Homo sapiens: one gene and its partner. The protein of the gene in region 1 purifies or fractionates together with the protein of each later gene. This does not show direct contact. Each region holds a gene or a part of one and is shown on either strand. Other genes may lie near its edges.

What was found. Proteins that work in one complex are often made in the same cells at the same time.
Region 2: the proteins of VWCE (region 1) and ZNF696 purify together in Homo sapiens (co-immunoprecipitation; 3 studies listed by BioGRID and IntAct, with this or other methods). This does not show direct contact.

The regions. Positions count from the first base shown.
Region 1 is NC_000011.10:61,288,620-61,292,366, forward strand, and holds part of VWCE (von Willebrand factor C and EGF domain-containing protein precursor), read right to left. Parts: intron 2,958-3,747; coding exon 2,863-2,957; intron 2,735-2,862; coding exon 2,645-2,734; intron 2,309-2,644; coding exon 2,180-2,308; intron 1-2,179.
Region 2 is NC_000008.11:143,294,270-143,298,016, reverse strand, and holds part of ZNF696 (zinc finger protein 696), read right to left. Parts: intron 2,278-3,747; coding exon 1,217-2,277; 3' UTR 1-1,216.

The sequences.
Region 1 (3,747 bases):
CTTGGTTCCGTTTGCCTCTGCAATGAGAAATACGTGCAGAAAATGTCCCAAGGTGAAAGGCATTCAGGAGCAGATCAATTGCTTCCATTGGTTTTCCTATCTGGAGGAGATGCTGCAACAAGCAATGAGCTCCAAGACCCCTTTATTGAGACCCTTGGACCCAACAGCGTCCTTCTGGGAAATAATCAGAGAAGCTGACAGGAAGCCTCTTTATGGCGCGTTTTTTTTTTTTTTTTTGAGACGGAATCTCGCTCTGTCACTCAGGCTGGAGTGCAGTGGCGCGAACTTGGCTCACTGCAACCTCCGCCTCCCGGGTTCAAGCAATTCTTCTGCCTCAGCCTCCTGAGTAGCTGGGATTACAGGCACCCGCCACCACACCCACCTAATTTTTGTATTTTTAGTAGAGACGGGGTTTCACCATGTTGGTCATGGCTGGTCTCGAACCCCTGACCTCGTGATCCACCCACCTCGGCCTCCCAAAGTACTGAGATTACAGCGGTGAGCCACCGTGCCCGGCCCTATGGCAGCATTATTTATACTGGTGAAACACTGCAAACCTCTTAAATAAGGGACAACAGACAAATAGTTATTTCAATTACAGCAACCACATATGTAACTGCTAAAAAAAAATTTTTTTTCTTTTTGTTTTTTTGAGACAGTCTTGCTCTGTCGCTAGGCTGGAGTGCAGTGGTGTGATCTCGGCTCACTGCAACCTCCACCTGCTGGGTTCATGCAATTCTCCTGCCTCGGCCTCCTGAGTAGCCGGGATTACAGGCATGTACCACTACACCAGCTAGTTTTTGTGTTTTTAGTAGAGACAGGGTTTCACCATGTTGGCCAGGCTGGTCTTGAACTCCTGACCTCAAGTGATCCACCCGCCTCGGCCTCCCAAAGTGCTGGGATTACAGGCGTGAGCCACCAAGCCTAGCGAAAAAAAAAATTATGTTGCAAGGAATTGTTAGTGATGCCTACAACATAAAGTTAGATGGGAAAAATAATAAAAGCTACAGATAAGATATAATCCCAGTTTTATAAAGCATACATATATGCTGCATGCTTAACATACATACACACACATACACACACTCACAAACACAGACACACCCAGGGAAAAGGGCAGGAAAAAAAACTTCATTTTAGTAACAAATATCTCCGGGTGGGGACTTCCAGAGAATGCTTATTTTCATCTTTCTCCTCTTACTTTCCAAATGTTCTACAATGAACTATCTCTTGCTTTTCTATTCAGGGGGAGAAATATTACTTTTACGAAGTTAAAACTCCAAAAAGGCTTTTGTCGCTCTGGAAAGATTGACAAGAAACTGGTCACAGTGACTGTTTCTGGGGAAGGTAACAGATTTTGTCCGTAGAAATGTTTTAAAAATCACAAGCAAATAATACATTCACAAACTAATTATTGAGTTTAGCGTCCCTCATCTTTTAAATGTCATTTTCCCAAGGAGCCTCCCCTGGCCAACCCTCCCAACTCTGGGTTCCATGCCCCTCTGTGGGCCCTGGCACCTTGCCCTTCCCAGTGAAGGTCCCCATGACAATGGAGCTGTTCTTGTCCTGTTACTTGTCTTCCTTCCTCATATTCAGAAACTCCCTAATGGGGCTGGGTGCGGTGGCTCACGCCTGTAATCCTAACACTTTGGGAGTCCGAGGTGGGTGGATCACCTGAGGTCAGGAGTTCGAGACCACCCTGGCCAACATGGCAAAACCCTGTCTCTACTAAAAATACAAAAATTAGCTGGGTGTGGTGGCACCCGCCTGTAATCCCAGCTACTGAGGAGGCTGAGGCAGGAGAATCATTTGAACCCAGGAGGTGGAGGCTGCAGTGAGCTGAGACCATGCTACTTCACTCCAGCCTGGGCAAAAGAGTGAAACTTCGTCTCAAAAAAAAAAAAAAAAAAAACTCCCTAACAGGGACCAACTGTGGCTCCCATAACCCCAGTCCCTAGCTCAGTTCCTGCCCCTAAGAAGTGCTCAATAAATAATTGTAAAATAACAGAAGTGACACATTTCTTTTGTTCTCATGTCTCTCTGCCCACTCTCAAACATCAGAGCCTATCTTGGCTCAGCTTAGCCTTGCAATACACTGGAGACCATCCTGGCAGGAGGGGGAGGAGATATAATTCCCGCTGTCCCCCTCCCCCTCCCCCACCACTCCCAGGCGTCTCACCTGTACACCTGATGCCAACAGCTGTCTCCGTCATCGAGAAGCCCACGGGGCACACTCGGGCCACCTCCTGACAGCCTCCATGGTTGCAGGTAAGGTCACAGCCGTACTCCCCACATGGTCCATGGGTTTCTAGAGCAGGCATCACACCAGTGAGCATGCACCCCGTGGCAGTCCCAACCATCCCCACTTCACCAGGGTCCTCCTGAATTCTGTTGGGAGGGTAGCTCTGAAGGCAAACAGGCCTGGGTTTAAATCCAGCTCTGCCATTTACCAGCTGTGTGACCCCGGGCAAGACAATAACTTCTGTGTCTCAGTTTCTTCATCTATAAAATGGGCACAAAATGTCTACCTAATGGAGTTGTCTGAAGCTGAGACACCAGGACACATCTCAAGTGCCCACTGCCCAGGACATAACCTCAATGCTCATTCATCTGTTCCCATCAGCCCCTTCCCATCCCCAGTTACCTGGGCAGGTGGCCCCTTGCTCTCCATCCTGGCAGGAGCAGACATTGGGAGCGATGCAGATGCCACTCCCACAGCCGAAGGAGCAGAGGGCTGAGAGGAGAAGTGCAGGTGAGACACGAGGAACTGGGGCCTCCCGTCTGCCCCTCGGACCAGGGACTGAGGGCTGGCAACACACACTGCTGGAGGAGAAGACTTGGGGCACAGGGACAAGCACTTACGCAGGGTGCAGTGCCCACCACCCATAGAGGGCGCCCAGCCAGGGCAGCAGCCACTCCCAAACCCAGAGAGGCAGACGTGGGGGCCCAGTCGGCGTCTGCAAGAGAAGAGAGAGCACTTTCCTCATTCTATACTGGGGGAGACATTGGTCAACAGGAAAGTCTCCCAGCCAGTGTGTAAGTGAATCAACAAACAATTCTCAAGAACTGTCTGGAGGGGCAATGGGAAGTTTCCAAAGAAAAATGACCCAAACAGTCTTCTCCTGGAGGCAAGACAGAGACAAAAGTGTGAGACAATAGATACTGGCCTCCTACAGATATCTGCCACGTGAACACACAGCAGAGTGGCCAGGAGAGGGGCCTCAGAGTTGAAGAAAGGCTGTGCAATAGATGAGGAGCCCCAGGGGTGGCTGCCTCAGGACCTTTGCACTTGCAGTTCCTGCTATAAGAAAGGTTCTTATGGCTGGGTGTGGTGGCTCACGCCTGTAATCCCAGCACTTTGGGAAGCCGAAGCAGGCTGATCATTTTGAGCCCAGGAGTTTGAGACCAGCCTGGGCAACATGGTGAAACCTCGTTTCTACTAAAAACACAAAAACTAGCTGGGCATGGTGACACACACCTGTAGGGTCAGCTACTCGGGAGGCTGAGGTGGGAGAATGGCTTGAGCCTGTGAGGCAGAGGTTGCAGCGAGCCAAGTTGGCGCCACTGCCCTTCAGCCTAAGTGACAGAGCCAGACCGTCTCAAAACAAAAAAAAAAAAAAGAGAGAGAGAAAGATTCTTCCTCAGACACACACTGGGCTTCCTCTCTCCCTTCACCCAGATCTCTGCCCATGGCACCTTCTCAGAGAGGCCTTCCTTGTCCACCCTTACCTTGCTTTATTCTCCACA
Region 2 (3,747 bases), on another chromosome or scaffold:
AAAGAGACACTTCTACTTTTCTATCTAGAAAATAACATTTTAAAAAATGAAAATATTTTACAGGAAATAACATTTGTACATACTCATAACAGTCTCAAAGAGAAAACGATTCCTCTACCCACAGAACGCTTCTGAAATCACATGTGTGTAAGCCTTTCCCTCCACACCAACCAGCTCTCCAACTCCCTCTCAGACACCAACGCGATGTCCTACAATTTAACTCGATTCTGTCACCAATTGCCCGGAGCTAGTGCAGAACCCACAGGGTAAGGGGTCAGTCCCACAAGACCACCCCGACTTCAGATGCCAAGTGCAGACGGTGGGCCCCGGGGACCCCACGACCCCCTTCTCAGGTTCCAATTTTTTTTTTGAGATGGGTCTCTCTGTCGCCCAGGCTAAAGTACAGTGCCCAGATCTCCGCTCACTGCAACCTCCGCCTCCCAGGTTCAAGTGATTCTCCTGCCCCAGGCTCCCAAGTAGCTGAGATTACAGGCGCACGCCACCACGCCCAATTAATTTTTTGTATTTTTAGTCGAGATGGGGGTTTTGCCATGTTGGCCAGGATGGTCTTGATCTCTTGACCGTGTGATCCGCCCGCCTCGGCCTCCCAAAGTGCTAGGATTACAGGCGGGAGCCACCGCACCCGGCCAAGTTCCATAATTTTCTAAGCACACAGAAGTCGGGACCATATGAACCGGCTGTGAAAAGGCGTTGAAATACATGGATGAACCACCGACCCGCAAGGTACGGGGGAGGACGCGAGGCTTCCATGCCCTGTCTGGGCGCCCCCTTCCTAACTGCCCCCCCACCCCGCCTTCACCAACCCGAAGCCCGAGGCCCTCATCTCATGCAGGGTTTTGATGGAGGCCTGGTTGCGGAGGAATGACCGATTCAATCACCGGCCACTGCCCCGCAGCAGCTGACCGTGGGAGGCGGGGAGTCTCAGAGGCGGGCGGCCGGCCCGGGACAGACCCCTGAGACCTCCCCGCCTCTGGGAATCGCCTCCCGCGGGCAGCGCTCGCCTTCCCCGAGCCCTGTCTCTCCTGATTGCTCCCAAGCCAAGGCGGATGCAGGCCTGGCGAGGCTTTCGCAACCCGAGAACCAGGCGCGCAGCCGGCTGTTACTTCCTCACCGCGCACGGGGCGGACAGGAGCCTCCCCCGGCCTCGGCCTCGCGCCCACCAGGCCGCCGGCATCTCTTCCGCCGCAGCCCCGGCTCACTCGGCGCCATGCACCCGCCGGTGCTGGATGAGGTGGAAGCTCAGGCGGAAGGCGCGGCCGCACTCGGTGCAGCGGAACGGCTTCTCGCCCGTGTGGAGTCGCTGGTGCCGGAAGAAGCCCGACAGCGCCCGGAACGCGCGCCCGCAGTGGCCGCACTGGTGGGGCTTCTCCCCGGTGTGGATGCGGCGGTGCTCGCGGAGGAAGGAGCTGCGGCTGAAGGCGCGGCCGCAGTCCTGGCAGGCGAAGGGCCGCTCCCCCGTGTGCACGCGCTGGTGCTGGAGGAGGTTGGAGCTCTGGCTGAAGGCCTGGCCGCACTCCCGGCACTCGTACGGGTTCTCCCCGTGGTGGGTCCGCCGGTGCCGGACCACGTTCGAGCTGTGCAGGAAGCGCTTCCCGCACTCGCCGCACGCGTACAGCCTCTCCCCGGTGTGGGTGCGGCGGTGCTTGGCGGCGTCCGACCTCTGGCCGAAGGCCTTGCCGCAGTCGGCGCACGCGTAGGGCTTCTCGCCCGTGTGCACGCGCTGGTGCCGGAGGAGGTTGAAGCTCTGGCCGAAGGCCTTGCCGCACTCGGCGCACGCGTAGGGCCTCTCCCCGCTGTGCGCCCGCTGGTGCCGGACCACGTGCGAGCTGTGGATGAAGGCCTTCCCGCAGTCGCTGCACTCGTACGGTTTCTCCCCCGAGTGGATGCTCCGGTGCTTTGCCGCGTCCGAGGAGCACTTGAAGCTGCGGCCACAGGCGCCGCACGGGAAAGGCCGCCCCTTCCAGCTGCCCCCGCCCTCTGCGCCGGGGCCTGCGTTCGGAGGGACGTCTGACTCGAGGCCACTCTGTCCTCCAGTTTTCTCAGAAGTGACCGGGCCTCGAGGGGAACCTCCGGGCCTCTCTCTGGCTTCCTGGTTTTCACAAAGGCCAAGAGACCCCAACGCCCGGGGAGGCCCCCCTCTGTGGCCCTCTCCCTCGGGAGCGCCTGCCTCTGCGGCAGGCTCCGTGCTCTGAGCTGCCTGCACCTCGGCTGACCGGCTGCCACTCGGGGCCTGCGCCAGGAAAGCAGCCTTCACAGCTGAAAAAGAGGCCAGACAGGAACGATTTTAGATGTAAGAGAACGTGAGTCGAGGGTGGCTCTGGCAATCGTGGTGACGACAGAGTGACAGTGATGGTGACGTCAGTGTGCCACAGACACCTTTGATTTTGCCCATTCAGTTCCCGCCTCGTTTTTTTTAGTTTTTTTCTCCTCCCCACCTTCTTAACCCCCATGGTTATGAGGTAGACGAGAATCCTGCACTGCCACTCCAGAAACGGGGCTGTGGGGCCGGATGTGGTGACTCACACCTGTATCTCCGCACTTTCAGAGGCTGAGGCAGGAGGACCACTTGAGACTTGGAGTTCAAGACCAGCCTGGCCAACATAGTGAGATCCTGTCTCTTAAAAAAATAGAATTTTAAAAATATACAAACAGAAACGAGGCTAAACGGGGCTAGAAACAGGGCTAAACCTCTAGCCTCGGCCCACCCAGTCCTGGGAGGGGAGGGGACAGAAACGCAGGCTCTGGGCACTGCCTTACTCTGCGGGACAGCTGGGAAAGCAAAGGAGGCTGGAGACAGCTGGCAGCAAGCCAGGACGGGAGCGAGGCAGATGTAGCAGGAGGCCCGGGGACAGTGGCACCCAACAGAGCCCACGGCCCAGCTCTGCCTTCTGTCTGTCCTTCCTTCCTTTCTTGTGAGCCAGGGTCTTGCTCTATCACCCAGGCTGGAGTGCAGTGGTACCATCATGGCTCACTGCAGCCTCAGGGCTCAAGTGATCCTCCCTCCGCCTCCCAAGTAGGTGGCGCACCTCCAGGTGAGCACCACCACACCAGGCTATTTTAAAAATTTTTTGTAGAGACAGTGTGTCAATGTGTTGCCCAGGCTGGTCTTGAACTCCTGGGCTCAACCCTCCTCCCACCTGAGCCTCCTAAAGTGCTGGGATTACAGGTGTGAGCCACCACACCCAGCCATGGCCCCAGCTCATTCCTTTTACCTTGGACTCCCTGAGACAACGCAGACTCCTTAACAACTGCCCCCAAACACCAAACTCTAAGGGCTTCTGTTATGTGCAAACAGGAGCGTCCTCACTCAGACAGAAATCCGGACCAAGAGGCCAGTCGCGGTGGCTCACGCCTGTAATCCCAGCACTTTGGGAGGCTGAGGTGGGCAGTTCACGAGGTCAAGAGATCAAGATTAGGTGAAACCCTATCTCTAATAAAAATACAAAAATTAGCTGGGTGTGGTGGTGCACACCTGTAGTCCCAGCTACTTGAGAGGCTGAGGCAGAAGAATCACTTGAATCCAGGAGGTGGAGATTGCAGTGAGCTGGCGCCACTGCACTCCAGCCTGGCGACAGAGCAAGACTTTGTCTTAAAAAAAAAAAAAAGAAAAGAAAAGAAATCCGGAACAAGAGCTGGAAGCAGCAACCCACGTCCCATGTGGGCTGGGCGGCGGCGGCGCTGGTCAGGCTGAGCAACCCCATCCAGGCTGCGTTATCAATGGCCCTT